2 linked regions of the Homo sapiens genome follow. The protein of the gene in region 2 purifies or fractionates together with the protein of the main gene of each other region. This does not show direct contact. Each region holds a gene or a part of one and is shown on either strand. Other genes may lie near its edges.

Region 1 (3,500 bases), on a different chromosome or scaffold from region 2:
ACTCCTAGGCTCAAGAGATCCACCCACTTCAGCTACCCAAAGTGCTAGAATTACAGGCATGCGCCACTGGCTGATTTTTTTTTTTTTTTTTTTGAGACGGAGTCTCACTCTGTTGCCCAGGCTGGAGTGCAATGGGTGCAATCTCGGCCCACTACAATCTCCACCTCCCAGGTGTTCAAGTGATTCTCCTGCCTCAGCCTCCTAAGTAGCTGGGATTACAGGTGCCCACCACCACGCCCAGCTAATTTTTGTATTTTTAGTAGAGATGAGGTTTCACCATGCTGGCCAGGCTGGTCTTGAACTCCTGACCTCAGGTGATCCACCCGCCTCGGCCTCCCAAAGTGCTGGGTTTATAGGCGTGAGCCATCACGCCCAGCCCCAGCTGTACTTATAAATGTAACATATATGCTAGTAATTCAAGTCACAGATCAACTAGAAATTTCCTATAAAATTGACTTTAACCCCAATTAAATAAAAAAGGGGGCCTGTTATTTATACTCACAAAAATGAGAACTGAGGCAGTTATTGAGATTAAAGAAAAAAGATAGTTGTTGAAGAATATAGAGGTTTTGCTTAAATTATATTGCTTACTTCAGAGTTTCCTAGGATAACTACTCACCTCTCATCTTAATTTTTTTTAAGGTAAGATGAAAAAATCTTGTTATTCTTCCAAAACATTTTTGAAGATTTTTGATTTTTTTTAAGTTGTCAAAATATGTAACATATGCTGCTGGTTACTTAAAAAAAAATTCTGAACTGTAGGAAAATAGTGTAATAAACTCAAGTAAAACCAAGAGTTTTTATTCAGTGGACATAGGAGAAATCCACAAATCTATTTAAATAGATTGCACAGTGTCAACACTATCAAACAATTTCTAGCATCAGGACAAAGGATATTGTTAAGCGGTTCTTACAAAACACATACAGTTAGAAATGTAATTAAAGTGATTCTAAGTTTGAAAAAAGATAAAAATAAGTAACTCTAAGTAGAAATAATGTCAAGCTTTTGATTCAATAGTTAGCTGAAGTTAATTCATTTCAAGATAGCACTCGTCTCAAATTATTTCTGAATCAGAATGGTTATCTATTATAAAGTAAAAGGCTTAACTGCTATAAAGCCTTTGAAAATGTACATGAGGCTGGGTGCAGTGGCTTACACCTGTAATTCCAGCACTTCAGGAGGCCTAGGTGGGCAGACTGCTTGAGCCCAGGAATTTGAGACCAGTCTGGGTAACATGGTGAGACCCTGTCTCTCAAAAAAACAAAAAAACAAGAACAAAAAATTAAAAAAACAGAAAAGAAAATGTATGTGGAAATCTAGCAGTCTCAGAGATCACACATAGATGAGTTCTATTTCTTCAGATAGCTATGCTGTCTTCCATTCCTATAGGCCAAATGAAACTATAAATACTACTTAAATATAGTACATAACTTCGCTTTTGTATTCTTTTTTAGTTTACCTCATAAAAGTTGCTACAGGGGCTGGGCGCGGTGGCTCATGCCTGTAATCCCAGCACTTTGGGAGGCCAAGGCGGGTGGATCATGAGGTCAGGCGTTCGAGGCCAGCCTGGCCAACATGGTGAAACCCTGTCTCTACTAAAAATACAAAAAATTAGCCGGGCATGGTGGTGTGCGCCTGTAATCCCAGCTACTCGGGAGGCTGAGGCAGGAGAATTGCTTGAACCTGGGAGGCAGAGGTTGCAGTGAGCTGAGATCGCACCACTGCACTCCAGCCTGGGCGACAGAGTGAGACTCCGTCTCAAAAAAAAAAAAAAAGTTGCTACGGGATGGTAGAAAGGGCATTAGACTAGTTTCTCATTCTGGCTCTGCCACTGACTAGCTTGGTCACCAGAGGCAAGTCACTTAATTTCCCTAGGCCTTAGTTTCCTATATGCTGGACGAGGAAGCTGGAGCTGGCTAGATAGTGGTTGATCTACGGCTGGTGACTCTTCGTAGTATAAAATACCTAAACAGAAGCTGGACATGGTAGCTTACATCTATAATTCTAGTACTTTGGAAGGTCAAGGCAGGAAGATTGCTTGAGCCCAGGAGTTCACAATTATAGTGAGCTATGATCATGCCACCGCATTCCAGCCTGGACAACACAGCAAGACCCTCTCTCTAAAACAAAACAAAACAAACAAAAAATAAATTCCTAAACAATTGAGTTCCTCACAACATAAAATTTGTGTTCTCTAATTTCAAGTTTACTTAGCATAAGGTTTTAGCAATACACATTTACTCCATGTCCCCTCCACAGTTGGAAGACTCAACAAATTTCAAGACAATCAAGGGTTAATTCATGTGTTAATGACACTAATATAACAATGACTTAGGCCTATCTTCAGTTTTGCCCATTAATGGAATCAAAATTCAAAAATGGAAAGGCAAGAAATTTGAGAAAAATTCCTGCCTTTGTAAACAGAAACCTCAACCAAGGGCAAATATCTAATGATTGAAGGATCAGCATTATTAACTCAGATTTCTTTGACACCTAGTTTGGTTCTGCATTTTTCCCTTTGTACTATTTTGGTATGAAGGCTCTCTCTTCATGGTAAGAGAAGCTGCTGACTATACTACTATAACATTACAATGTGCAGTCGATATCTTAGGAGAATTAGTAGACACCTGGACAACTTTTAAACTTTCCATTTTTCAATGATCACTGATAAAACATCAAGGCTAATTTAGTTATTTAGAAACAATCAATAGTATTTAACACTCTATTGGGGGAAAAAAAGGATGGCAGAAATCACCAAAAAAAAAAAAAGTTGTAAAATATGTTGAGTAGATAAGCTGGCATCTGTTCTCAGAACTTCTCATCATAGGCAAGATTTATTTTCTATTCTGTATCACGAAGTGATAACCTTTCTAACTATATGGCACTCTTTGTACTCTTGCAGCATTTTATTCTATCAGAGTAAGTGAAGACTATGAAGAATGTTCTCAGTGCATCTCAATTTTTTTTTACAATCTTAGTCTCTAGTATACCAATGAGTTATTATTTTTAAAGATTCTCAGATATTTGATCAATTGTATACTTGCTAGATCAGCTTTAATTTTCAAAATATCTATGTTTCCAGTTTTGGTGAAAAAATATTTCTCAATGTCTTTTTCTTCTGTTAACTTATATCAACCACCTCTACTAAACGATTAATACGTCTTTCTTTTTGGGGTTCTGTTATTGAATGAACACCTGACACTCGCAGGTGATTTCTATTAGCTGTGAAAAAAATCACATCAGAGCCAATTTTTGGCAAATTTACATATAAATTAGAAGCCTACTGAATGAAAAGGTTTTCTAAGATTAATAAGATGAAAGCAAAGTAGCAGTTTTTTCCTACCAGGCATCATCAAGTAATGAAATGTCTACTGAAGTAGAATGTCCGTATAACTAAAGTTTTTATGTTCAGGTACTGAGACTTATTTTAAGCATTTTAAATACATAGGTCCAAAATGTTTATATAATTATGTAACTTGTTAAACATCCTTGGACATAA
Region 2 (3,500 bases):
TAGAATGGTAAGTTTCTTTTTGTATGCTGAGTTGACTGATAGCTTGGCAACTTCTAGGTAGTTTCTGCATGGGTGCTGGTCACCTGAAAGATCAAGGCAAGATGAGAGGATTAGGACTTTTAGCCCCACCTCCTCCAAACTCCAGGGAGGGAAAAGGTGCTAAGGGTTAAGGTGACCACCAAAGGTCAATGATTTAACCAACTGTGCCTCTGTAATGAAGCCTCCATAAAAGCCCATAAATGACTGGGTTCAGAGAGCTTCCAGATAGCTGAGGCACAGTGTAGCCAGGGGAGGGCATGGAAGCTCCGCGGCCCTTACTTCTCCTACGCACCTCCTCATCCATATCCTTTATAATAAACTCTTGAACCTAAGTGTTGGCCGGGTACAGTGGCTCATGCCTGTCTGTAATCCCAGCACTTTGGGAGGCTGAGGTGGGTCGATCGCTTGAAGTCAAGAATTCGAGACCAGCCTGACCAACATGATGAAACCCCATCTCTACCAAAAATATAAAAAATTAGCCAGGTGTGGTGGCGCATGCCTATAATCCCAGCTACTTGGGAGGCCGAGGCAGAAGAATCGCTTGAACCAGAGCGATAGAGGTTGCAGCAAGCCTAGATCGTGCCACTGCACTCCAGCCTGGGTGACAGAGCCAAGACTCCGGCTCCAAAAAAAAAAAACCCTAAGTATTTCCGAGAGTTCTACATAAGCCACTCTAGCAAGTTAACTGAACAAAAGAAGGGGGTATTAGGAACTCAATTTATAGTCAGTTGGTCAGAAACACAGGTAAAACCACCTGGGACTTGAGATTAGCATTGGAAGTGGGGGACTGTCTATGGGACTTGAGCTTTCAACCTGTGGGATCTGATGCTATCTTCAGGTACACCGTGTCAGAATAATACTGAATTAGAGGATACCCATGTGGTGTCCACTGCTGAATAGCTTGCTTGATGCGCAGGGGAAAACCCCACACATCTGGTGGTGTGAGAATATACTGGAAGAAAGTTTATGTTCTCAGAATCAACAAAAAATTATCCTACATGGTTGCAACGTATTCAACATTTCAGGAATTTCCCTGTAACAACTGTAACACAGTTAAGCAACAGGTATGCTGGAGGTTAGTTAATGCTGTGTTTTCCAGAATTAAAGATATAAATGCATTTCTCAAATATATACACTACATTCCTTTAAATCACTGTGGGTGCGACGGCTTACGCCTATAATCCCAGCACTTTGGGAGGCTGAGATGAGTGGATCACAAGGTCAGGAGTTCGAGACCAGCCTGACCAACATGGTGAACCAGATCTCTACTAAAAAGACAAAAATTACCCAGCCGTGGTGGCACGCGCCTGTAATCCCAGCTACTCGGGAGGCTGAGGGAGGAGAATCACTTGAACCTGGGAGGCGGACGTTGCAGTGAGCCGAGATCACACCACTGCTCTCAAGCCTGGGCAACAGAGCAAGACTCCATCTTAAAAAACAAACAAACAAACGAAAAAACTCAACAAATGGCTTCATATTAAGTCTACACCTCTAATTACTGCCTTCTCAAACTACGCTTTCCAGTGAACAATGCTTTATTTGGTTTGCTACATTCTTGCAAATTTGAGTGAAAAGTACACTTAAAAAAAAAAAGTATCATAGGCCAGTATGGTGGCTCACATCTGTAATCACGGCACTCTGGGAGGTCTTGGTGGACAGATCGCTTGAGCCCAGGAGTTCCAGACCAGCCTGGGAAACACAGTGAAACCTCACCTCTACCAAAAAAATACAAAAATTAGGCCAGGCGCAGTGGCTCACACCTGTAATCCCAGAACTTTGGGAAGCTGAGGCAGGTAGATCACTTGAGGTCAGGAGTTCAAGACCAGATGGCCAACATGGTAAAACCCCATCTCTACTAAAAATACAGGCCTGGGCAGTGGCTCACGCCTGTAATCACAGCACTTTGGGAGGCCGAGGCAGGTGGATCACCTGAGGTCAGGAGTTCGAGACCAGCCTGACTAACGTGGTGAAACCCTGTCTCTACTAAATACAAAAAATTAGCCGGGCATGGCGGCGTGCGCCTGTAATCCCAGCTATTCAGGAGGCTGAGGCAGGAGAATCACTTGAACCCAGGAGCCGGAGGTTGCACTGAGCAGAGATCACACTATTGCACTCCAGCCTGGGCAACAAGAGCAAAACCCTGTTTTAAAAAAACATATATATATAAAATTAGCCAGGCATGATGGCGCGCACCTGTAATCCCAGCTACTTGGGAAGCTGAGGCAGGAGAATCACTTGAACCCGGGAGGCAGAAGTTGCAGCAAGCCAAGATCATACCACTGCACTCCAGCCTGAGGGAGAAGAGCAAAACTCTCTCTCAAAAAAAAAAGAAAAAAAACAATTTTTGACACGTGTGGTTAGCATGCACCTGTAGTCCCAGCTACTCAGGGGCTGAGGTGAGAGACTGACCTGAGACCAGAATATCAAGGCTGCAGTGAGCAGGGATTGTGCCGCTGCACTCCAGCCTAGGCATTGAAGTGAAACCCTGTCTCAAAAAAAAAAAAAAAAAAAACTATTGTATACACTGGGGGGCAGAAGGTGTTGAGCCCCTTTTAACTTTCAAAGATTCATCTTTAAAATTGTGAGCAAACAGAAAAGGAATTGCTAGATTCTTCTATATATAGAGTCACTCAATGGGATGCCATTTTGAAACTTCACAGCAGGAAGTTTTAGTTTGGTCAGAGGGTCATTAAAGAAATGCCTCAGTTAATATATATGACTTGAAAGTCTTTTCTTTTATAAAAGTATATACCAAGTTCAGGCCGGGTGCTATGGCTCACGCCTGTAATCCCAGCACTTCGGGAGACTGAGGCAGGCAGATCACCTGAGGTCAGGAATTCGAGACCAGCCTGGCCAATACGTTGAAACCTCTTCTCTACTAAAAATACAAAAACTAGCTGGCTGTGGTGGCAGGCACCTGTAATCCAGCTACTCAGAAGGCTGAGGCAGAAGAATCGCTTGAACCTGCGAGGCAGGGGTTGCAGTGAGCCAAGATTCCACCATTGCACTCCAGCCTGGGCAACAGAGCGAGACTGCGTCTCAAAAAAAAAAAAAAAAAAAAAAAAAGATATACCAAGTTCATAAAATACAGCATTTCAAAATGGCAGACTACTAGGCTGGGCACGGTCACTCATGCCTGTAATCCCAGCACTTTGGGAGGCCGACGCGGGTGGATCACGAGGTCAAGAGTTCGAGACCAGCCTGACCAACATAGTGAAACCCCGTCTCTACCAAAAATACAAAAATTAGCTGGGTGCAGTGGTGCGCGCCTGTAATCCCAGCTACTTGGGAGGCTGGGGCAGGAGAATCGCTTGAACCCAGGAGGCGGAGGTTGTAGTGAGCTGAGATCGCACCACTGCATTCCAGCCTGGGCAACAGGGTGAGACTCCGTCTCAAAAAAAAAAAGGCAGACTACTATTTTTGTTAATGTGGGACAAAATACTCATAACAAATATTTTGCA

The links. The genes of interacting proteins can lie anywhere in the genome.
Region 1: the proteins of CNOT1 (region 2) and BTG3 purify together in Homo sapiens (affinity purification with mass spectrometry; one large-scale study listed by BioGRID and IntAct). This does not show direct contact.

The regions. Positions count from the first base shown.
Region 1 is NC_000021.9:17,599,402-17,602,901, forward strand, and holds part of BTG3 (protein BTG3), read right to left. Parts: intron 1-3,500. UniProt on the Homo sapiens protein: Overexpression impairs serum-induced cell cycle progression from the G0/G1 to S phase.
Region 2 is NC_000016.10:58,623,327-58,626,826, forward strand, and holds part of CNOT1 (CCR4-NOT transcription complex subunit 1), read right to left. Parts: intron 1-3,500.